2 separate regions of the Homo sapiens genome follow, and region 2 is linked to region 1. The links come from fine-mapping of genetic effects on gene expression. A gene starts in region 1. The other region holds a variant in brackets. All regions are shown on one strand. Distances are between the middles of the regions.

Region 1 (12,667 bases):
TGACCCAACACTGTACTGATGGCTCTTGGGCAGAATGTCTAGGGACTCTGTGGCCCTCATACTGGCTGGTTACTAGGCTGGGCACAGCACTTCCTGAAATGTTTGAAGAGTAGGCATGATCCAGTTAAAGTCTCTTATGCCCCTGCCATTCTCTCTCTCTTTTTTTTTTTTTTTTTTTTTTGAGACAGAGTCTTGCTCTGTCGCCAGGCTGGAGTGCAGTGGTGTGATCTTGGCTCACCGCAACCTCTGCCTCCCGGGTTCAAGCGATTCTCCTGCCTCAGCCTCCCGAGTAGCTGGGATTACAGGGACCTGCCACCATGCCCAGCTAATTTTTGTATTTTTAGTAGAGACGGGGTTTCACCATGTTGGCCAGGATGGTCTCGATCTCTTGACCTCGTGATCTGCCCGTCTCGGCCTCCCAAAGTGCTGGGATTATAGGCGTGAGCCATGCGACTGGACTTAGAGGAATTTTTTTTTTTTGAAAGACCAAAGAAAAACGCTCCTCCTCTAAGCCCCAGGCACAGCCTGTCAGAACTGAGGTAAAAGCTGATTATAGTATTAGCTTACCTCCTGTTCTTCAACCTTCTGCCCTTGCGAGGGTTCCTCCTCACCATCAAATGTTGGTGGGATGCTGTTGTTAATGTTGAAAGTGACCGTGATTCTAAAACGGCAAGGGAAAACAGACAAGGCAAAACAGACAAGGCATGGTTTTAACCGAGCAGGTTAACACATAAACATGGAAATCTGCTACAGTTAAAAAGGCGTATTGAAACAATGTCTCTGTCCTAGCTGGCTGAATTATATGCAGAACTTCAAACTAGGCTGGGTGCCTACATCCAATCCTGAGTGACTCAGCAGGTCTGAAGTGTGCCTACCATGTACCAGCTGCTGGAAGCCAAAGCTGGCCTCAGTTTATCTCAGCCAAACAAGTCATGCATGGGTTACTCCCAACAGGGCCAGTACCCCAGGGCTCACTGCCATGTGCTGACTGGGCATCTCATGGCCACAGCCAGCTGACACTGCCCACCCTGGTCTTTCCAGGGAACCCTTGGTCAAAGTAAGGACCTGAGAGGCTGGTGAGATGGAACAGAAGCCCCTTTAAGAGACTTTCCCCGTCAGAAAATTTGCCCTGCAAGGAAAGGAAGAAGCGATGGAGGGTGCCTCTGCTAAACACCGAGAGCAGCCCTGGAACGGGGAAGGGAATGCCTCACAAAGAACAAGGGCTGTAGTAGAGACTCATCCCTTAGAGTACTTGTGGGAAGTTTCATAATCACAAAGCAGGCCAGACACACCAACTAGTGACAATTTTAAGGTGCAAGAATCCACACCTGACAAATCATGTTCCAAAGTTTGAGTCAAAATTCTTGGGACATAAGGTTTAGAACCAAAACTGCTGGGCTATGCAACTCTGGCAGGCACCATTCCACACAAGAGTACATGAAGGCTGGGCGCAGTGGCTCACGCCTGTAATCCCAGCACTTTGGGAGGCCGAGGTGGGCAGATCACGAGGTCAAGAGATCGAGACCATCCTGGCCAACACGATGAAACTCCATCTCTACTAAAAAATACAAAAAAAAAAAAAAAAAAAAAATTAGCTGGGCGTGGTGGTACGCGCCTGTAATCCCAGCTACTCAGGAGGCTGAGGCAGGAGAATTGCTTGAACCTGGGAGGTGGAGGTTGCAGTGAGCCGAGATCACGCCACTGCTCTCCAGCCTGGAGACACAGCAAGACTCTGTCAGAAAAAAAAAAAAAAAAAAAAGAGTACATGAAGTGCCGCCCTCCACTTGTGCTAACTAGCTGCTCTGCCAGGAAGCCACCTTTCCATGGCAACAGAGGCAGTCTGAGGTTGACAAAATCTGTCTAATTCCAACTGTGCTGACTAAGCTGAGCTCCTGGGCACAGAAATTGAATGACGTTCATCAGAGCATTATTTTTAATGGCCCCCAAATAGCTATGAAAACCTTGCGCAAATGGTGTTTAGGTGAGATTACAGAAGACACAATTGACCTGTGTAGGGCAAAAACACACTATGCAACAGGCAAGAGAATCAGGACCCTACTTCACACCATATTCAAAATGAATCACAGACCTAAACTAAGAGCTAAAACTAGAAAACTTTGAAAAAATTAAGGCATACATCTTCACAACCTTGGGTTAGGCAGTGGTTTCTTAGACGTGACACTAAAAAAGCACAAGTTGCACTTGGTGAATTAGAAGCAAAGTAAAAAATAAATAAAAAAGCACAAGCGACCAAAAAAATAGGTAAACTGAACTTCCTCAAAATTAAAAACTTTTGTGTCAGAGGACATTACCAAGAAAGTGAAAAGGAAACCCACAAGATGGGAAACAGTACTTACAAATCATTAATTTGATAAGATAGTTGTACCCAGAAAAACTTAACTTTTACAACCCAACAATTAAAAAGGTAAATAGGGTGGGCAGGGTGGCTCACACCTGAAATCCCAGCACTTTGGGAGGCCAAGGCGGGCGGATCACGAGGTCAGGACTTTGAGACCAGCCTGGCCAACACGGTGAAACCCTGTCTCTACTAAAAATACAAAAATTAACCGGACGCACGCCTGTAATCCCAGCTAAGGAGGCTGAGGCAGGAGAATTGTCAGAACCTGGGAGGCAGAGGTTGCAGTGAGCCAAGATCGCACCACTGCACTCCATCCTGGGTGACAGAGCAAGACTCCGTGGGGTTGGGGGGGGAAGCTACAAATTGTATGACTCCATTTATATGAAATGTCCAAAAGAGGCAATCCCATAGAGAAAGTAGCTTAGTGATTACCTGGGGTGGCTACAGGGAGGAATAATGAGTGACTGCTAATAGGTATTGTTTGGGGATGACAACAGTGTTCTAGAATTAGGTAGTGATAACTGATGCATAATTCTGCGAGGACTAAGAACCACTTAATTTAATAAACTTCAATAAATGGGTAAATCGTATGCCATCTCAATTAAATCTCATAAAAGCTGTGATTTAAAAAAATTACATACACATCATAAGGTCAATTATGAAGGAAATTCAATTTATTTATTTATTATTGAGATGGCGTCTTGCTCTGTTGCCCAGGCTGGAGCGCGGTGGCGCGATCTCGACTCACTGCAACCTCCACCTCCCAGGTTCAAGCGATTCCCCTGCCTCAGCCTCCCGAGTAGCTGGGACTACAGGCACGTGCCACCATACCCGGTTAATTTTTACTAGAGCCAGGGTTTTAGTGTTAGCCAGGATTTTCTCCTGACCTCATGATCTGCCCGTCCCAAAGTGCTGGGATTATGGGTGTGAGCCACCGCGCCCAGGCTCAATTTAAAAACCTGGAAGATGCCAAATGTTTATCTGTGTAATGAGATTATGGATGACTATAATGCAGAAAAGTGTAAACACTTTAACAGTTTAGGAGATGATGGGGGAGCTGACTTAGGTCACAAACTCCCCACCTCTGATGGCAGCCCTTACTACAGTGTAACCCCATCCTGTTACATAGAAGTTACATATTTTTCATTTTCACCCATACTAAACATTAGAGAGCAGTGTCCTATTTTATCAGGGCTGTAAATCAGAGATCAAACTGATTCTGCCAGTACTTTTTTGCACTACATTTTTGTCTCCTTAGTAACCAGCCCACAGCAAATTTGTGTTCGGTGAATGGACTGCCTGGGGCTTACGAAGTTGTCCAAATGAATCCTTCACTCTCTTGAAACCCATTTATCAAAGTATCCACACCTGAACTCAAGGCTCTTCTGGGGATGACCCAGGATGGGTCCTGCAAGGTTAAGGGAGTTGCTGCCCTGGGATCCCCAGACCAGTACTTACTTTTCCCCGGCAACTTTCCGCACTAATTTCGCTTCTGTCCCATTCAGTTCCAGCTCCCAACCTCCAGACATCTTAGGGAGGGTTTTATGCTTCTGAATTTTTCTTTCCTCCTTAATTTCATCACTCAGGAAATCAACAAAAGCTTTGTCTCCTAGAAAAGAAATCCAGATACATAAAAAGGAAAGCCAGTTAGTCTAAAACATAAAACTATTACCCAGGTTATTGCAGCCAGAAACCTGGACTGTTTCTAATCTCTCTGCTATTACGGTTACTCTAGAAGCCTGTTTCCTTATCGGTAAAAATACCATAATAGTAGTAGGAAGCTGAGCCTGATTCTGGAAAAGTGATTTCCAACAATGAACGCATTACCACTTTCCGCTATAAACCAGGAGAATTTCCAATCCTCTTCCACTTGCCAAACGATATAACTATGCTATTTTCAACCACGACCATGGGCCTTCCCAAAGGTCCACTTTCGATAGAATAAGACTAAGGAAAAAGGTACCCTAGTATTTAATTTTATTCACCCCCTACCAAAAGAAAACGAAACTGCTGGATAGGGGAGGTGGGGGAAATATGATCATACGTGGGTTTAGCCCGCTGGTTGCCAATCAATGGAAAAATGTCCCAGACCTCAGAGGTCGGTTGCAGGCCCTATTCCTGGTCTACGTTTTCCCTCTGTTGAACGCAAACCACACCCCCGGCCCGCTAAACCTCACCGTCGGTGTGCAGCGAGCCGCAGCCACAGCCACAGGCGCAGGGTCCGCGAGGCCGCAGGAGGCCCGGCCGCCGCTCGGAACCTGCGCGCACGCTGAGCAGCCCGAAGGGCCGGGTGCACAGCCGGGGTGCCGGCTGCAGGAGCTGCCGGAAAGGCGAGGCGGGCGCGGCAGCGCGGAGGCCGGCGACGGAGGAGCCCAGCACACGGGGCACGCAGCGCAGCAGAGGCAGCATCGCGGAAACGACTGCGAACACGTGCAGATGCAAAGGACAACCCAGGCCTAGGCGCCCCGCGACCTGAGGCGCCGCCGGAAGCCCCGCCCCTGCCCGGAAGCGCTTCCCGCGCCGGCGCTCTGACGACCTAAGGCCAGCGGGCGGAATCGCGCCCTCTGCTGGAGACTCCGGTGCAGCCCGGGAAGCCTCGAATCCGGATTCCGGAGCTTTCTTGCTGCGCTGCCGAGTCCGCTGTCCGAAGCTGTTTAATTCCCTCTAGTGGCCGCTTACCCACTTTCCACCTGCTGTTCTCAAAGCACGCAAGGCTTTTGGGCTGCGTGGAATGCACTCTTGTCTCCCGCCAGCTCTCACCAGACCCTTCCACGGTCACTTTCCTCTAGGAGGCTGTGGTGTTATGATATATATATGTATTGGTTTTCATCCACAGTTCCTGGGTCGTAACTCCTATAGCCCTTGTTACAATGTTCTGTGATAATGTTGGGTGTGTTAGGCCTCAGGAAACAGACTCTCCCCTTCTCCTGCCCTCCTTTTACCTGCCCCAAAGCAGGACTCTAATCTCCTTCCACATTTCTGATTATGGGTCTTAAGTCCCTTCCCAGAGAAGGTCCCACCATATACCCTGGGGGAAGGGATGCTGATGTCCAGAAGCTTCCATAAAAACCCAAGAGGAGAGGGTTTGCAGAGCCTCTGACAGCTGAATACGTAGAGGTTCCTGGAGGGTGGTGGCCCAGGGTAGGCAAGGAACCTCGGAGCTTCTTCCCCATTCCCCACCCTGCTCATCTCATCTGTATCCTTGGTCATATCCTTTATATGAAACCGGTGAATGTGTTTCCCTGAGTTCTGTGAACTGCTCCAGTGAGTTAACATAATCCAAAGAGGGGGGTCGTGGGAACCCCAACTTGAAGCGGGTTGGTCGGAAGTTTCAGAGGCCCAGACTTGCCATTGCTGTCTGAAGGTGGGGGCGGTCTTGGGGACTGAGCCCTCAACCTATGGGATCTGACACTATCTCCAGGTAGATACTGTTGGGATTGAATTGGAGGACACCCAGCTGGTGTCTGCTGCTTAGTGTGGAGGGGAAAAACCCAAACCTTTGGCCACATAAGTCTTCTGTGTTGATTGTTGTGTTGTGAGAGCAAAGGAAAGTCTGAGGGTTTTCCTGAAAGAGGCCTTCTAGAACCTTTTTTTCCACCGGCTCGGAACTCATGCTTGTGCGCACCCAGCCCATATGCTTCATTCTCTTTTCAACAGGAACCTCCTAGCGTTGCTGCTTTAACCAGGTTAAACCCAACCAGACTGTGACATCCTCAAGGGCAGGATCCATGATTAATTTTTGTGACCTTCCCTCTCTGCACCTCCAACCTTGCATCCAAGTTCTAATGGAACATCATTTTTCTGGGGACAAGAAGCCAGCTTATATCATTTAGATAAGTCCAGAGGCTTCCATAAAAACCCGAGGACAGGGTTTGGAGAGCCTCTGATAGCTAAATACATGGAGGTTCCTGGAGGGTGGTGGTCCAGGGACGGCATGGAGGCTGGGAGCTTCTTCCCCATTCCCCACCCTGCTCATCTCCTTATCTGTATCCTTGGTCATATCTTTTGTATGAAACCGGTAAATGTGTTTCCCTGAGTTCTGTGAGTTTCTCCAGTAAATTAATATAACCCAAAGACAGGGTTCAGATTTATTAAAAATCAACAATCCTACCTTCCCAGGATATACAGGACATATAAGCTACTAAGAAGGTATGTCTTACTAACTCATGGTAAGACTAACACTTAATATTTTCTAAATAATTTTCTATGAATAATGGAAAAGAGATGCAAGAAACAAGCCACACACATCATATACAAGATTCATTTTTAATGGATTTGATCGTCGGGTGCAAATTTGAGCATTATTTACAAGAGCTTTCTGTAGAGTTATTTCTGTTCAAATAAAACCAGACTCTCAAAATACAACATAAGCCTGAACCTACTTGATTTTTTTTTCTCCCTCTAGTTACCAAGGAATATCGTATCTCAGATGCATGGCCTACTATCACACTGGTCTTTAAAGAAAAAAAAAAATGCATGGCCACAGTTCCAGGCAGTTCCTGGTAGCTGGATTTAGTGGATTTATATATGACAGTACAGTACATCATCAGTTTCACCCACAGGGCAGAACTTGCCTCCATTCAGGCATCTCTTTACAACTGGCAGCAATGCAGCATTAAGGGTTTTTAGCCAGGACCTGCTGTTTGCAGTCCTGCCCCTTGTAGTGTTACTCTGGGTGTTGCACACTCCATGATTACTAGAAGACAAACACCTGAGGCATGCAATCTGCTTGGAGTGCATCTATTTACATGAAGCTGCTCACGGGAGCTGGTGATTCTTCCAGATATGGGTTTCGTAGGTTGGCAAAGAGTTATCACACCATCAGAGATTTTACCAATGGAAAGAGAGTAGCTGAAGATTATATTGCAATGTTATTGTGAAACATTTAACTTTCTTAAGTTTAAAGTGTACTATCTCCTGCAGCTCAATATAAACAACGATGTATTTCTTTGTAGCAGTATGTGGAGTCAGAATGGGTTTTCCAATCTGATTTAATCCCTGAGCAGCTATGTTAAAAGTTAACTTTTTAAAAAAGCCCAATAAAAAACTAAATACTGTATTAAAACTCTACCACAATGTTACAGGGATAAACTTATTTCTGTACAGAAACATTAAAGCTACTTAGAAGCTGTTTACATCCTTTGCCTCTCAGAAAAAAAATATACATTTCCGGAAACTGTTCAGGTACTTAAGCTGGACATAAATTACCCCAAGTTTTTTCTTTTTCTTTCTTTCTTTCTTTTTTTTTCTGAGACCGTCTCACACTGTCGGCCAGGCTGGAATGCAGTGGCGTGATCTTGGCTCACTACAAACTCTGCCTCCCAAGTTCAAGCAATTCTTGTGCCTCAGCCTCCCCGGTAGCTGGGATTACAGGCGTGTGCCACCATGCCCAGCTAAGTTTTCTATTTTTAGTAGAGACGGGGTTTTGCCATGTTGGCCAGGCTGGTCTTGAACTTCTCAAGCAATCCACCCACCTCAGCCTCCCATCCCAATGCTGGGATTACAGGCATGAGGTGATCCGCCCGCCTTGGCCTCCCAAAGTGCTGGGATTACAGGTGTGAGCCACTGCGCCCGGCCACCCCCCAATTTTTTTTTTTTTTTTTTTTTTTTTACCAGCACTATGAATGATTAAAAATACAATATTTTTCTTACTAAGTAGGACTAAACATTCTAATCCCCTACTGGAAAACAAAAAACAAAAAACAAAAACTGGAAAACTTTTCAGAAAGTCAGCAGTGGTAACAAGTCAGTAAGTGGAAGAACTGGTTCAAAGTTTAAGAATTCAGTAAGATAAGGTATATAGGAGCTGTCAGATCTTCTTTTGCCCACGTATAACCATTTCTGACAGACAGCCCTAAACACTAGCTGAGAGCTTGACTGCACAGGACCACGGCTAGTGTTGGAAATAAAGACTGAGCCGGACTTGACATACACAACTCCGGACAGATGGGACCCTGGAATGGGGCTGCTCCATCAGGCCACAGCTTCCAGAAAGAGAGCATCCATGATCTCTGAAGAGCCTCTTGGGCAGCTTGGCCCCTGGTTATAACTATGATTCATTCATTAAGAAATGACAAAACACCCCACAGATGTATTTGGACCAAGTAAGCACAATAAAAGAGCTAAATCACGGCTTCTTCTAGGGCAAAATATTATCTGGGGAAAGATTACTTGCTTCTGATAATTAAATAGCTAAGAGGAACCGTTAGTGCCTTTTCTCTGCTCAGAATATCAGAACAGGAACAGACTGTGGATATCCTCCAATTCCCTCTGACAATGAGGGTTAGAGAGAGGTGCCTAGCAGTTAGAAAGCAGCAAAGCCAGATTGTCCCAAGTCCCTACGAAGAAGGAAAAAATATCATAGAAAATTAATAAGATGCAAGAATAAGTGTTACAGCTCTAGCTCTTTTAGAATTTGTCCAGCAGGTCTTCTAGACTTCACTGAACTGCCCCCCACCCCCCCCGCCCACACACCAAAAAAGATACAAGAATGTAAGCCCAGATGTGGTGTGGTATCTGGCATAAGCCAATGTTCTCTGGGTTCTAGGTACCCCTCTCCCCTCCCCCACCCCCACCCCCTCTGACCAGGGGACTGCCCGAAAAGAAACAGCTGAAATGGTACACAGTCACTCCTCATGCCCGCATGTTCACTGGTGCCCAGTTAGAGAGAAAAATGGCAACTGTGTATGTGGGAGTCACCTACACACACAAAACACTGATAGGTCAGTTTCCCATGTCTACACGTGACAGGATTCAGAAGGTACAAATCAACCTTCACCCAGGAAGCTTACATGTCTCCTGAAAGCACTGACAGGGTCACGCACTGAGGACCAGGAGGCTCCTTTACTGGTCTCTGCTTGGAGACAGACACAGAGTGGTCCACCCTGAGACACAAGCGTTCAGTAGGGATCGCCATCCCAGGAGGTACGAGATAACAGCACCTCCCTCTGGAAACTTCTACAGAAGTCAGTTTTGTTTTCTATTTTAAAACTGCATTCAGAGAGACATTAAACAAGAACTAAGGGCAACATCCAAGCTCCGCAACCTCCTGTGGCCCTTCCAGAAAATCTCCCTCAGTCACAAGAACTTGGGATATTGCTGTACTTCACATCATATGGCAAGCAGTAACATTCAGCCTAACGGCTCCCAACTCACTGTACGTGTGTCGTGCGTGCTCCAGGCATAGTTCTGGGTACTTTCCATTCCTTTTCTCTAAACTTTATGAACCCAATTTTATAAGGATTATTATTATTACTCCCATTTGGCAGATGAGAAAACTGAGGCTCAGGTGTTAAATTAAGTCAAAGTCACCCAGTAAGAACCAAAAGCATAATTTTGAGGTTTCCAGGTACAAATGATATGTCCATGTCTATATGGTTCAGTCCCAGGAGTTGAGCAAAGATGCTTTCACGCTCCTGGAAGTCAGGCACCTTCAGCTGATTCCAAGGCTTCTCTAAGCGCCAACCTGGAAGCCTGCTGTAAGGACAACTGTAGTCCAAGCTCCCAGGGACCAGTGATTCTGGCGGCATCCTGGGGCGGCTCAGTTTCTGGCGGTTCTCAGCTTCCTCCTAAAGTACTCAGGGGCAGCCTCGTACAGCCACTGTGCATCTATGACGCAGAGGTCCCGCATGTAGCACTTGTTGGTGTAGAGCAGCTCAGTGTACACGACGCAGGCCGGCTTGCAGTGGAAGAGGACAGACGACGGGTGGATGGCCACTGGCTGGTGGGTGTCCGTGGTGGCATAGGTGCCATCTGGCTGAAGCTCGGCGGTGCTCATGAAGAGGCTGTGAGCCAGGCAGCGGCGGACACTCTCCACGTCTCCTCGGGATGATGCGATTGGCATTGACATCTGTTTCGGGAGAAAGCGAGGAATGGAGCCGACCCCACACGTAAACACTGGTCAGCACTACACAGCGTGTTGGGGCAACTGGACCCACTGGGGCAAAAGCAGCCCACATTGTGAGCCTAACGATGTGGATTCTGACATTCGGAGGTGGTCACCAAGGATCAGCAAGGTCAGGGGAAGAAGGCCCAGCTGGAGGAGCACGGACCAGAAACAGGGAAACTACCGCCTGTGAAGGTAGGGCTGGGAGGGAGGTGCTCACATTAGCCACCAGACCACAGGCAGGTTGGGTGACCCACCCCTCACCTAAATTCCATCAGGACGGCCCGGAAAGGAAAGGCCCTTCCCTCTCGCTTTGACCATCTCACCATCTCCTCACTCCGATTCACCCACCTGCTGCTGCCAAGCTAATCTACCTAAAGCACAACTCGAATCACTCTTCATCCACTCAAATACCTTCAACAATGTCTCTACTGCTCCTTGCAAAACAATGCAAACTTCCCGTGGTGAAGCCACGAAGGAGCCACCCTGAGCTGCTCGCCTGTCTTTCCTCTCACCGCTCTTTTTCTTTCTTTCTTTTTTTTTTTTTGAGGCTGAGTCTCCCTCTGTCACCCAGGCTGGAGTGCAATGGCGCAATCTCAGCTCATTGCAACCTCCACCTCCCAGGTTCAAGCTATTCTCCTGCCCTAGCCTCCCAAGTAGCTGGGATTACAGGCGCCTGCCACCACGCCTGGCTAATTTTTGTATTTTTAGTAGAAACGGGGTTTCACCATTTTGGTCAGGCTGGTCTTGAACTCCTGACCTCAAGTGATCTGCCCGCCTTGGCCTCCCAAAGTGCTGGGATTACAGGCGTGAGCCACCGCGCCCGGCCTCACCACTCTTCTTTAGACACTCCATGGTCCCCCATAGCTGGCTGCCTTCTCTTTCCTCGCCCCGTTTCATGATTCCTATCTGTGCCTTCACATTTGCTACTCTTAGTAGAAATGCTGCCTGTCTCATCAGAGGAAATGTCAGTCACCAGTCAATGTCCTTGTTCTACTGCTCTTGATGAGTGGGGCATGTAACCTACGCCCCTGGGCACAGATGAACAAACCAGTGGTACACACACGCTGGACCTAAGCTGGCCAGCTTTTCTCTTCCAGGCATCTTTTAGGTTTGAAACTGGAAAACTTGTCAATCTCTGCTGGGCTCTTGAGTGGAGGGGCCATGCAGAGAAATCACTTCCATGCGGAGGTAAAGGTGAGAAAAGGGAAGGAGGCACGCAGAGGGCACTCAAAGCAAGAGAAGCAGCAGGTCCAGAGAAAGTGGCGGGCCTGGCTCCTGCAGGCTTTTTCTGGTTCCTGTGACTCTATTTCCTGCCTATCGGTTCTCAGAGATACCTTTCCATCCTTGGAAGAATCTTTATTTTGTCCTTTATGATGGCTCTAGGGTTTCTGTTGTTGACAATCAGCTGATCTATGCCTGAAGAAGATACTTTTTTTTAAGAGACAGGGTCTCACTCTGTTGCCCAGGCTGGAGTGCAGTGGCACAATCCCAGCTCGCTGGCAACCTCTGCCTCCTGGGTTCAAGCGATTTTTGTGCCTCAGCCTCCTGAGTAGCTGGGGTTATAGGCATGCACCACCACGCTCAGCTTAGTTTTGTATTTTTAGCAGAGATGGGGTTTCACCATGTTGGTCAGGCTGATTTCGAACTCTTGGCCTCAAGCAATCCACCTGCTTGGGCCTCCCAAAGTGCTGGGACTAGAGGCATAAGCCAGCCACCACACCTGGCCTGGAAGATACTCTTTTATCTCCTTATCTGTCAAGATCTAGCTCAGTTGTCACCACCTCCAAGAAGCCCCAGAGGCTAACTGGTGGTCTCTCCTTCCAGACTATCAGCTTTACCACTCACTGGCTGAGTGATTTGGGGCAAATTATTTAACCTGATTAGGCTTAGTTTCATCATTTGTAAAATGGGAATAACAAAAGAATCAATCTTATAGGTTGAAATGAGGATTTTATCCTTTGGGTTAAGGTCTGAGTTGAAAAAGAAAAAAAAAGAAATGAGGAGTTTAAATAAGGCAGCCACATAAAAAGTACTCAGAACAGTGCTGAACAAACACTTCATGAATGATAGTGATTATTTTAATTTGATGGCCTCCTGGCATGAGTGTATGTACGTCAGGTCACCATCTAGATTATTACTTAGTTACTGAGTAGGCATGTCTGTAAAGTCTCAGGACCTTACCAGTGCCTGACATATAATGAGAGGTATCCCTGGCCACTACAGGGTCCTAAATTCACAACTAATAGAGAAGCACCGTTTCTACTGTCAATGATAAATTGAGAAAACTTATGAAGCCAAGAGACAGACTGGCAGGAAACTGTTCAAATACAAAAGCAGTTTAAAAAAATGTGTGAAAGACAGAATACAATAGGCTACTATGAGAAGAAACAGCTCTAGTGCCAACCGTAGGCCGTTGGCAT
Region 2 (12,667 bases), 69 kb after region 1:
TGGTGTGAATGAATAATGGACTGGAAGGGTGTGAAGGGTGAAATGGAATTGTGTGATGCATGAATGGAAGGATGTGAGGCTAGAATGAAAGGGTGTGTAGGGTGCAATGGGAGGGTTTTCAAGGTGGAATGGAAGGGTGTGAAGGGTGAAATGGAATTGTGTGATGGATGATTGGAAGGATGTGAGGCTAGAATGAAAGGGTGTGTAGGGTGCAATGAGAGGGTTTTCAAGGTGGAATGGAAGGGTGTGTAGAGTGGGATGGAAGAGCTTTATGTAAGGCTGTGGCATTGAGAAAGTCACCCAAACCTACCTATGCAGCTTAAGTGGGAGTAGGTAGTGGGGAAGTCTCAGTAACCAAGAGGGTCTCGGGCAGAACCATGCAAAGGCTTATTGGGGAGGAGCTGGGTGTCAGTGAGGAGTGCAGGTGTTAAAAATGCTTTAGTAACTGCAGGGTCCTTTGCATATTGAGAAGATGTGAGGCTAAATCCGGAGCTCAGACAGCAGAGGCCCAGGTGTCTCTAGGACACCTTATTATTTTTTACCTGGTCTACCTGTACAGAAATGAATATATCACAAAACAGTGCTGGTCCCAGCCCAGGTGACCCCTGGGGGCTCTGTCTGTCAGGAATTGAGAGAGCTTGGCTGACTCCATGGCCTCATCCTGGTGCAAGCTATGCCTATGCCCAGCAACAAGAGCTAACTTCGTCCCAGCCCAGGGACTTCAGGACCACTAGACATCCCTGACAGGACAGATACTGGAAGATCCCAAGCTACAACTTCACACTCTGCTCGACACCAGAGCGTTCCAGGAAAAACCTCATGAGTCCAGGGCCTGGAGCCAGAATCCACCAAAAAAAAACCCTGAATGGACAAAGGCTACCTTTAGCTCCTGCTTCTGGGACCTGCCCAGAGTACATACCCCTCTCAGAGGTGAGAGAGGCCTCTTCTAGGGGGATCTTTTCTCCGGTGCTATACTTTGATAGGTTTCCTTCATCCATTTAGGGGTATTTGCCTCTGGAAGAAAGATACACTGTCTGAGTCAATAGGAATCAGAGATTTGAGTCTGCCAGGCCAAAGCCTGGATCTGGACAATGGCCAGTTGATCATGTTGGTGACCCCCTCTATGAGGAATCCTAGGACACACATGGATGATAGCAGCAGCAGCAGCAGCAGCCAATCACTGGCCACCGACTGTGTGCTGGGAACTGTGCTCAACATTTCTGCAGAGATGGTCTCACTTAATTTTCATGACCCCCTAAATTAGGCACCAGTATTTTCTCCAATGTTCCAATGAGGAAACTGAGGCTGAGAGGTGAAGGAATCTAAAATCTGCCACTAATACTGACTGCTGGGGGCCGGGTGTGGTGGCTCACATCTGTAATCCCAGCACTTTGGGAGGCTGAGGTAGGTGGATCACCTGAGGTCAGGAGTTCGAGACCAGTCTGGCCAACATGGCAAAACCCCCTCTCTACTAAGAATACAAAAATTAGCCGGGCATAGTGGCACATGCCTGTAATCCCAGCTACTTGGGAGGCTGAGGCACGAGAATCGCTTGAACCCAGGAGGCGGAGGTTGCAGTGAGCTGAGATCACACCACTGCACACCAGCCTGGGTGATAGACTGAGACTCTGTCTCAAAAAAATTAGAATAGAATAGAATAGAATAGAATAGAATAAAACACTGACTGCTGGGGTTCTAACCCACATCTCTCTGACCCAAGGGTAAGAGGTATACCTCCCAATCCCCTCAGCTACCCACCCCAGGCTTGCTCACCATCAAAGACTGTGCCCTGTTAGCCTTTCCCAGGCCGCATTCTGGGCCTCACCCTGCAGCAAAACAGACTTGTTCCCTTTAGAATGTGTACACAGAGCAAGAGGCAAAATTCACAAAGGCCACTTTTAGCTCGAAGTGTTCATGCCCAGCTGAGGAAACAGGCTTTGGTGGTGGTGGTGGTGGTGGGGTGTATGTGTCAGTGGGTGGGTGGGAGAGAAGGACCTTCTGGGAATCTCTGCTGCCTGGGCTATAGCTATTTGTTATCCTGGAAACCATGGCTGCCGAATTCCTCTCCTGCCAACTTCTAATTTATATGCGTGCCCTGGCTGGGAGAAGGGAAGTCAAGCCAGGAATCTCCCCTTTCCACAGGTCCTCTACCCAAACCCACAGTTGATGGGAAACCTGCAAGTGTATTGCAACCTCTACACTAGGATGTGCCTGGATAAGCCTAGTCACCTGCTGAAGGTGCTGTGGCACTTCTAGCCCAATGCAGGGTCAGCTGCCTGCCCCACCCTGAGAGGCTTCTGGGAGCTCACATCCAATGCTGATCATCCCCGTGCTCCACTCAATCCCCTGCTGGGGTTAGGGGTAGCAATGGTTGCTGAGCAAGGCAGAGAAGGGGAGGCTGAGTAAAGCCTGGGGCTCCACGGGGCAGACAGTGGGAAGCTAAGAACCTGTCTGGGCGCTGTGAGGTGGCACCTGGCAGGTGGGATTCCACATGAGCTGTGGCTCCAAGCCCCCCTACCCTCCCTTCCTGCCCCTATGCATGCTCCAGGTCCCATCAAACTTCACTTACAAAGCACAAATTCAAAGATACAATTATTAAGAGTTTCAAGGCACTGACTGCCACGCATTAAACCCCAAGCATGGGGGCCTACTGCCATTGCACAGGTTGCACTTCCAGGAAGCTGGCCCTACTCACACCCTATCGCAGGCCCAGTTTAGCCTAGCTGGGCACTGATTGCTTCTTCCTGGTCGTTGGTGAGGTTCTACATCAAATGATTAGCTTTCCACAGTGGGTTTTCTCCCACTAGAGAGAACTTAGCGCTTCCAGCATCTCAGCTTCATTCCAGGGCCTAGCAGAGCTCACCACTCTGGACATTTTCATCCTCTTCCCCGTTTTCTTTCACACACACAGACCTCTGCTCTCTACATATGATCTTCCTCAGAGAGAATAGATTTGGTTACTTTTGTTCTGTCCTCTTCTCTTTGTGCCGCTCCTATAGAACAAAAATCATCAAACAGGGCCAGGTGTGGTGGCTCATGTCTGTAATCCCAGCACTTTGGGAGGCGGATGAGGGTGGATCGCCTGAGGTCAGGAGTTCGAGACCAGCCTGACCAACATGGTGAAACCCCGTCTCTATTCAAAATACAAAATTAGCTGGGCATGGGGGTGGGCGCCTGTAATCACGGCTACCCGAGAGGCTGAGGCAGGAGAATCGCTGGAACTTAAGAGGTGGAGGTTGCAGTGAGCCGAGATGGCACCATTGCACTCCAGTCTGGGCAACAAGAACAAAAGTCTGTCTCAAAAAAAAAAAAAAAAATCATCAAACAGCCAATTCAGCAACATCATTCTTCTCCTTCCATTACTCTATCCACCCAGAAGCTGACCCACACTAAATGGTTAAGAACTGTGAGGATAATCCAGCAATTCCCCTGCTGGGTATATACCCAAAAGAGTTGAAAACAAGGTTTCAAAGAGATATCTGTACACCTATGTTCATGGCAGCATTACTCACAATAGCCGAAAGGTGGAAGCAACACACGTGTCCATCAACAGATGAACAGATAACCAAAATGTGGCATAGACATACAATGGGATGTTTTCCAACATTAAAAGGAAGGAAATTCTGGCTGGGTGAGGTGGCTCCCGCCTGTAATCCCAGCACTTTGGGAAGCCGAGGCGGGAGGATCACCTGAGGTCAGGAGTTTGAGACCAGCCTGGCCAACATGGTGAAACCCCAGCTCTACTAAAAATACAAAAAAAAAAAAAAATTAGCTGGGCATGATGGTCGACACCTGTAATCCCAGCTACTTGGGAGGCTGAGGCAGGAGAATGGCTTGAGCCCGGGTGGTGGAGGTTGCAGTAAGCTGAGACTGCACCACTGCACTCCAGCCTGGGCAACAAGAGCAAAACTCCATCTCAAAAAAAAAAAAAAAAAAAAAAAAATTCTGACACATGCAATACCATGGATAAACCTTGAACACTTTGTGATAAGTGAAAGAAGCAAGCACAAAAGGACAATGATTGTATGATTCCACTTATATAAGGTTTCTAGAGTGGTCAAATTTAAAGAGACAGAAAGTAGAATAGTGGTTCCCAGGGGCTGAAAGGAGGCAGGAATGGGGAATTATTATTTAATGGGTACATAATTTCAATTAAGGAAGATGAAAAAATTCTGGAGATGGACAGTGGTGATCGTTGCACGTCGAGGTGAATGTGCTTACACTTAAAAATGGTTGTAATCATAAACTATATTATAGATATATTCAACTAAAATAATGAAAAAATAACTGTGAGGACATTTTGTTCTCCCTCAAACTGTCTTCAAATAAATTAAATTAATTAAATTAAATTAAATTAAAGGTCTTCAAATTAAGGCCTTCTAAAATCAAAAGAAAACAAAAACCAGCCATTAAAGAATCAAGAAATTCAGCCGGGCATGGTGGCTCAAGCCTGTAACTCCAACACTCTGGGAGGCCGAGGTGGGCAGATTGCTTGAGTCCAGGAGTTCCAGACGAGCCTGGGCAACATGGTGAAACCCTGCCTCTACTAAAACTACAAAAATTGGCTGGGTGTTGTGGCTCACGCCTGTAATCCCACTGGGAGGCCGAGGCGGGTAGATCACGAGGTCAGGAGATCGAGTCCATCCTGGCTAACACAGTGAAACCCCGTCTCTATTAAAGATACAAAAAATTATCCAGGCATGGTGGCACGTGCCTGTAGTCCCAGTTACTGGAAACTCAGGAGGCTGAGGCAGGAGAATCGCTTGAACTCGGGAGGCGGGGGTTGTAGTGAGCCGAGATTGCGCCACTGCACCCCAACCTGGGCAACAAAGCGAGACTCCGTCTCAAAAAAGAAAAAAATTAGCCAGCGGCCAGGCGCAGTGGCTCACACCTGTAATCCCAGCACTTCGGGAGGCTTAGGTGGGCGGATCACAAGGTCAGGAGTTCGAGACCAGCCTGGCCAACATGGTGAAACCCCATCTCTACTAAAAATACAAAAATTAGCCAGGCGTGGTGGCGCACGCCTGTAATCCTAGCTACTCAGGAGGCTGAGGCAGGAGAATTGCTTGAACCATGGAGGCGGAGGTTGCGGTGAGCTGACATCGTGTCATTGCACTCCAGCCTGGGGGACAGAGCGAGACTCGGTCTCAGAAAAAAAAAAAAATTAGCTGGGTATGGTGGTGTGCACCTGTAATCCCAGCTACTGAGATGGCTGAGGCAGGAGAATCACTTGAACCTAGGAGGCCGAGGTTGCAGTGAGCTGAGATTGCGCCACTGCACTCCAGCCTGGGTGACCGAACGAGACTCTGTCTCAAAAGAAAAATAAAAATTAAAATAAATTTGTTTTGTAGAGACAGAGTCTTGCTATGTTGCCTAGGCTGGCCTTGAACTCCTGGCCTCAAGTGATCCTCCTTCTTGGCTTCTTAAAGTGTGAGAATTACAGGCTTGAGCCACTGCACCCAGCATGAGGGAAGCTATTGCAAAATATAGAAAGTCATGAGACTATTTATGCCCTTTGATACTATCCCTTAGTATTGACTTCAAGACAGTGATCTAAAGGATAACGAAAAGCTCTCTGCAGAAAGACGTGTATTGCAGTACTGCTTATTGTGGCAAAAAATTGGAAGCAAACTCAATGTCAGAACAAGAGGAGAATAGTTAAGTAAATGATATATCTACTGCAAGGAGTCATGCAGGGGAAGATTATCCTGAAAACTCTTAAGTAGCTTGAGGGATGCTTGTGATGATCTAAATCAAAGTCAAAAAAACAAGGTTTAAAACCCCATGTACTAGGATGATAACAAGATGAAAATGTGTTCCTGCAGAGAAAGACTGGAATGGAAAGAGGAAAGACAGAATTTTTGTATTGTTTGGATAATGAGATCATGGGGTGACTTCTTTCTCATTTGACCAGAACTTGTGCACCATGGTTATATTAGTTTCTGTGCAACAAGGCCAAAAAAATCTAAGTAATGGACCCAGTGGCCATTTTCAGGATTAACAATACTCTGTGATGGTCTGATTCATGCCCACGCAGACAAAGGTCCTTACCTAACCGCCTAGATGGCCCCGCATTGCCTAGCAACTACCTGCTTAACAGCAGTTGCTAGGAAACCAAGAACACAGCAGGACTCCTGACCAATAGCACAGCGTCCATACTACTGCTAGACTTCCCTTCAAGTTCTCTCCAACAGTCATGCTCCTGTCTAGCCTTTCCTCTTCTTCTCCTATTCTCCTCCTTCTCATTCCTACCTGCCTGGGGCTAACCTGTGAGTAGCACTCAATGGGGTCCCCACAATCATACAACCTGACACAACACAGGTAATCACAGGTTCCAGAGGACCTTCTTCCTTCCCCTGCTTCCTTCTTGCTCCAGGACTGGGGCCTGGACCAGAGTGTGTGCATGGCTCAAAGTTTAAATCTGTAGTTATCCCACCATTGAGACAAGTATTGCTCATGGCCTCTATCGGATTCTAGCACCTGGCAAATCCTACTCCTTGGGAGAGTGACTCCTTCAGGAAAGGCATTAAGCTCAGCCCAGGGCTCCCACCATCCATCAGAGTGCCTGGTGGAAGCATTCCATGATTCTTCCGTTTTTCTGAGATGGAGTCTCACTCTTGTTGCCTACACTGGAGTACAATGGCGTGATCTCGGCTCACTGCATGAGCCAGCACGCCCAGCTCATTTTGTTTGTATTTTTAGTAGAGATGGGGTTTTGCTATGTTGGCCAGGCCGGTCTCAAACTCCTGACTTGAGGTGATTCATCCGTCTCAGCCTCCCAAAGTGTTGAGATTACAGGCGTGAGTCACCTCGCCCAGCCAAATCCATGATTCTTGAATGCATTCTTTGACAGGGGTCCCTGTTCCAAGTGGCCCACTTTAAAGAGAAAGAAAACTTCATGTAGGGTGGATTAGTCTGAACACAGTGATCCTGGAAGACTCCAATTTTCCACCATTGTTGAGAATGATCCCTGCTGCCCTGCACTTCTCATTCCCATCATCTCCATGTGCTGTTCAACCGTCACATCCATTCTGAGGAAGTTGCCATCTATCTCTATTCAAAAAGATCTTTCTTCTATTCTTCTTCTTCTTTTTTTTTTTTAAATAGAGACAGTGTCTCACTATGCTGCCCAGGCTGGTCTCAAACTCCTGGACTCAAGCAATTCATTGGCCTCAGCCTCCCAAAGTGCTAGGATTATAGGTAAGCACCCAGCCAATTATTTTTATTTAGAGACAGGATCTTGCTCTGTCTCCAGGGCTGGAGTGCAGTGGCATGATTATGGCTCACTGGAGCCTAGGCTCAAGGGACCCTTCTGCCTCAGCCTCCAGAGTATCTGGGAATACAGGCATGTACCACGATGCCCGGCTAATTAAAAAAACTGGTTTTTTTTTTTGAGATAGAGGCTCGCTCTGTTGCCCAGGCTGGAGGGCAATGGCGTGATCTCGGCTCACTGCAACCTGTGCCTCCCACGTACAAGCAATTCTGCTGCCTCAGCCTCCCGAGTAGCTGGGGTTACAGGCACCTGCCATCATGCCCAGCTAATTTTTGTATTTTTGTAGAGACAGAGTTTCACCATGTTGGCCAGGCTGGTCTTGAACTCTTAAACTCTTAACCTCAGGTGATCCGTCCGCCTTGACATCCCAAAGTGCTAGGATTACAGGCATGAGCCACTGCATCTGGCCAAAAAAATGAAAAAAAATTTTTTTTTTTAAGAGACGGGGTCTTGCTATGTTGCCCAGGCTGGTCTTGAACTCCTGGTCTCAAACTCCTGGTCTCAATAGATCTTCAGGCCTTCGCCTCTCAAAGTGCTGGGATTACAGACATGGGTGCGTATTTCGTATCTCCTTGCCACTAGAATATAAATTGCTTGAGAATAGATACTCTGGCCTCTGTTATCACTGGCACCTACAACAGCCT[C/T]AGGCTCAAAGAAGCTAAGATTTACTGTCTGCCTAGTGTTGTGTACCAGCTCGCCCAGAACAACTTCCCACTCATGAGCTCACCTAGTCAAACAACCGTTTGACGCAAGCTTTGCTATTCCCTTCTTACACATCTGAAAACCTGTTTCAAGATCACACATCTAATGGGTGGTAGAGCCAAGAATTTGATTCCCAGCTCACTGCCTGTCCCTCAGAATTCTAGCTGTTGCTATTAGAATCCAGATCCAGGCCGGGCACGGTGGCTCACACTTGTAATCCCAGCACTTTAGGAGGCCGAGGCGGGCGGATCACTTGATGCCAGGAGTTCGAGACCAGCCTGGCCAACATGGTGAAACCCCGTCTCTACTAAAAATACAAAAATTTATCCGGGTGTGGTGGTGGGCGCCTGTAATCCCAGCTACTCGGGAGGCTGAGGCAGGAGAATCGTTTGAACCCGGGAGGTGGAGGTTGCAGTGAGTGCAGTGAGCTGAGATTGCGCCACTGCACTCCAGCCTGGGCGACAGAGCGAGCCTCCGTCTAAAAAAAAAAAAGAGAATCTGGATCCAAAGCGGACATGCATGTGTGTCTCCCCCATCCCCACACACTTGTTTGTGTCTGGCCTTTCTCCTACTCCAAGACTGGCTCCACTTCGGGGCTCGCTGCCATGGAGACGACTCCAGATTTAGGAATACATTTCCTAGGCTTCCGGCAACTAACGTGAGGACTTGCTGGGATGAGGGACGGGGAGGTCTGCAGAAGGAGGCGGGGCATGCGGGGGTTGCGGGGCTTAGAGGGTTGGCGGAGCCCCTCCTCGCGTAGGTCCTTCCTTCTTTCCCTCCCTCCCTTTCTCTTTTCTTTTTCTTTCTCTTTCTCTTTCTTCTTTCTTTCTCTTTCCTTTCTCTCTTTCCTTCCTTCCTTCCTCTTTTTCTTCATTCCTTCCTCTTCCTCTTTCTCTTCCTTTTTCTTTCTCTCTCTTCTTTCTTCTTTCTCTCTGTTGAAAATTGTTTTTGACCACACCCAGATCATACTGATATTTACAGTATAGTCCTGGCTACAAGGGAGCCCAGCTGTAACTTGTGAAGTGGGCCTGGTTTAGAAAGTAACAATGAGGTGGTAACTAATGACAGTACTAGTTGTTATCAAAAATTAACACCTTTAGGTATTTTTGTTTTGGGTTTTTGTGGTTTTGGTGCATCCACAATGTCTTCATAGTCTGCACTTATTCCCTTTGCCCACAGACCAACTGTGGCCATTCGATCTGAATTCTCACTTTCAGGGCAATCTTTCTTTAAATGTTCCACAGAGCCATGAAGTTGGCAACCACTACCATCAGCATAGAGTCCTTTGGGATTATCAGGACAAGATCTAGACAGGTGCCCCATTTCTCCACAGACAAAACATTCTGCAAAAGGACATTCGCCAAGAGGCGGGTCTACTTTAGCCTTACACTTGGTTATTTCGTGATCTGTGGACCCACACTTGTAACATCTTCTAGTGCCCATATCTTGATTTTCAAGGGCGGCAGGGCAATCCGCAATTCCACGACCAGGTTTTCTACAATGGAAACACACCATTGCATTTTTCTTTGCCCCTTGTCTTTTAAATCTTCTTACTTCCCATTGACTGTCCTCTTGGAGGAAGGGTTGTGTGGAGAGTGGAGGTCTGCATGTGGTAAAGGAGATGGGTGGGTGGGGCGTGAAGGACCCGAAAGACAAGGCCAGTCTCATGGGTGTGTGACCTGTGCGGTCACACAGAGCCCTGAGCTCAGCAGGGCCTGGCGCTTGATTTCATGTTCTGTTGTCACCGTCTTGACATTCTTATCATTTTTGAACGAGGGGCCCTGTGTTTCCATTTTGCACTGGGTCCCACAACTGCTGGAGCTGGTCCTACAGGAGGGTGAAAATTAGCATATAATGAGCAGTGAGGACAACCAGGAGTCCCTTTCATTGCCATCTTGGCTTTGGTGGGCTTTGGCCAGCTTCTTTACCGCATCTTATCAGTGGAGTCTTTGTGACCTGCATCTTGTGAAGCCAGTCCTGCCCACCTCCTGTGTCACCCCCAGCTTAGAGATCTGCATACAGTAAAATTACTACTAGCTTTCTCCTGAGGCCCTGCAAGCTAAAGCTTATACCTTGTGATACAGGCGTGTCAGATTGCCACCACTTTCCTGCTTTATAACTAAAGATGCTTTTGAGTCTAATACCTGGATAGACTGTGTCCAGCATTAACCTTTTTTTCTTCTGTTCTCATAAAAATCTCTCTTATTAAAAATCTGTTTGGCTTTGTATTTCAGACAACAGAAGACTAGTTTTCCAGCCTATTCACTTAGATTCCAAATGGCATCTGATCTCTTATTTTTTTCTTTCTTATTTTTTTAAAGAGACAAAGTCTATGTTGCCCGGGCTAGTCTCAAAAGCCTGAGCTCAAGTGATCCTCCTGCCTTGGCCTCCCAAAGTGTTAAGATTACATGCATGAGCCACCATGCTTGGCTTTGATCTCTTCTTTAAAACTGGGCTTAAGTATTTTATGAATTATCACTAGGTGCTATTTGATTTTAAAAATATTTGTTATATTCATCAGGTGTTCGGACGGTTCAAGTTTATGTCTTCCAGGCTACAACAGTTTCAGAGAAAAATAATTAGTCCAGTGTTCCAGCCTGTGCCACTGCAGAAAAGATGGAGTCCCTATAAGTCATTCGATCAGGTACGAAGACATTTCTATGCCTCCAGAGCAGGTAGGGATGATGGCCCCTGTTCAGCATGAAGCAGTGACAGAAGATAGATCTCTGTCCTTCTACAACCTCTTAAGATTAAGGACGAGTATGTAATGTCTGAGGTGGGGATAAGATAGGAGGTTGGCAGGACTGGTTTCACAAAGACTCCTCGTATAAAACAGGATGTGGTAAAGAAGCCAAAACCCATCAAACCAAGATGGTGATGAAAGGGACCTCCGGTTGTCCTCGCTGCTCATTATATGCTAATTTTAATACATTAGCATACTAAAAGACATTCCCACCAGCGCCATGACAGTTTACGAACGCCATGGCAGCATCTGGAAGTTTCCCTAAGTAGTCTGAAAGGGGGAAGAACCTTCAGTTCCAGGAATTCCCACCCCTTTCTCTGGAAAACTCATGAATAATCCACTCCTTGTTTAGCACACGATCAAGAAATAACCACAAAAATAGCCAACCAGCAGCCAGTCGGGACTGCTGTGCCTATGGAGTAGGTAACTTCTTATTCCTTTATTTTCATTTTTTCTTTTTTGTATTTTTTTAATTCTTAAATTTAAGTAAAAAATTTTTAATTTATAGGGGTTTTCTGGTAAAAACTGGAAAGCCTGCTAGACAAATTCTAAAAGAGCTGTGATACTCCTTTATTTTCTGAATAAACTTCCTTCCACTTTACTCTGTTGGCTTGCTCTTGTAGATCTTCCTGTACAAAGCCAAGAATCCACGTGGCCTCCCACGCTGAACCCCAATTTTGGGGCTCACCCTGTGACACAGCCAGAGGCAAATGGTTCCATGTCCCTCCTATTCCTCTTTGCGCCTGGATGGGATCCGGAGGGCTCTAGGCTTGGCTGCTGTGGCCACCAGATGAGGCTCTATGAGGTCTGCAGGGGTCTTGCCAGCTCCAGATGGACATTCCCTGAGATGCTGTTAGGCCACCTGGACTGGGGCCCCCTGTGGCATCCCTGGCATGGACACATAATGCCCAGCAAAGGCATCATCAAAGTTCCATTACTTTAGTGCTGGAAGGCAAACCAGATGGCAACTTGTTTGCAGAGAAAGAAACTGAGACCCAAAGAAGGGTCAGCCAAAGCCAGGACTCAAGGGTCAAGGGCTGGTGTTGATACTTCAGCTGCTGAGTGGCAGGAGTCCCTTTTTGCTGCCCTTCTCCCAGAGTTCCATAATGAGGTGAGGATGGGTCTCCTTCAGGGCTTGGTAGAGTCCATCTTTGCACTTCCGGTCCCAGGACTGGCTCAAGCTGAACAGCTTCCGCATCTGGCTGGGCCTCGTGTTCTCAGCCAGCACCCTCTCGTACTGCTCCTGGCTCAGCACCTGTCCATGCAGTTTGTCCAAGACAACCTCCACCGATGTCACTCGGGCTATCAGCTGCTCTCGATACTGGTCCACAAAGTGCAGCAACTGCGGGGCATCCAGAGGTGAAGGTACGGCTGGCAACGAACAAAGAAGGGCTCCAACCACAGCCTCCACCTCCAATCCCCACCTTCAGTGCTTTCCTCTCTCATCTCTGCATCCCTCGCTTCCTTCTGCCTCCAGAAATGCACCTGTGTCCTCCCTCATGGCAGCATCTAGCTTGGCATTCTGCCAGAGTGGGGATCGGGAGTGGGGTTCCTGCTGGGCACATTGGAGGCTGTCAGATAAGGAATTCTAGGGTCTCTGTGGATAGGACAAGGGGGTATGGGGAGCGACCATGCACCGCTCTCCAGGGCCTGACTCTTTGTGAGGTTTGCAGTGATGAGTCCCTTCCTTTCTCTCTTCCCTTCCCCCAGAACCAGACAGTACCCCAGAACTGCCACCGCCTCCTGTGGTCTCTGAGAGCTGTTACTGACCTATGCGGGCTGGAGGGATCAGAGTAGTTGCAGGCATGAGATCTCCTGGAGGAAAACAGAGATGAAGATGCATCTGAAACAGTGCTAAGTTATTAACACACATGGTACACCTCCAAGCTCCCACTCACTTCTGAGATTCTTTGATTTAGAAAAAAGCCACAGACAAATTCTGGTAGAAT

Evidence for each region. PIP is the estimated chance that this variant, and not a neighbour inherited with it, causes the effect.
Region 2: its variant is fine-mapped to the expression of C1QBP in whole blood (INTERVAL, PIP 0.93).

Annotation. Positions count from the first base shown.
Region 1 is chr17:5,434,306-5,446,972 of GRCh38, forward strand. It overlaps C1QBP (complement C1q binding protein), which reads right to left and starts at 4,850. Exons shown (of 6, transcript NM_001212.4): 1 at 4,537-4,850; 2 at 3,818-3,968; 3 at 568-661. The coding sequence starts at 4,768. It overlaps DHX33 (DEAH-box helicase 33), which reads right to left. Exons shown (of 12, transcript NM_020162.4): 12 at 6,612-10,208. The coding sequence ends at 9,900. RefSeq lists silencers at 4,517-4,566, 4,677-4,846, 4,825-5,007 and an enhancer at 5,067-5,246.
Region 2 is chr17:5,502,985-5,515,651 of GRCh38, forward strand. It overlaps NLRP1 (NLR family pyrin domain containing 1), which reads right to left. Exons shown (of 17, transcript NM_033004.4): 16 at 12,489-12,533; 17 at 11,134-12,089. The coding sequence ends at 11,770. It overlaps LOC101928044 (zinc finger CCHC domain-containing protein 9-like), which reads right to left and starts at 9,742. Exons shown (of 1, transcript XM_047437231.1): 1 at 8,968-9,742. The coding sequence starts at 9,643. The coding sequence ends at 9,056. It also overlaps the pseudogene RNU7-31P. The variant C/T (reference allele first, on the strand shown) is at 7,918.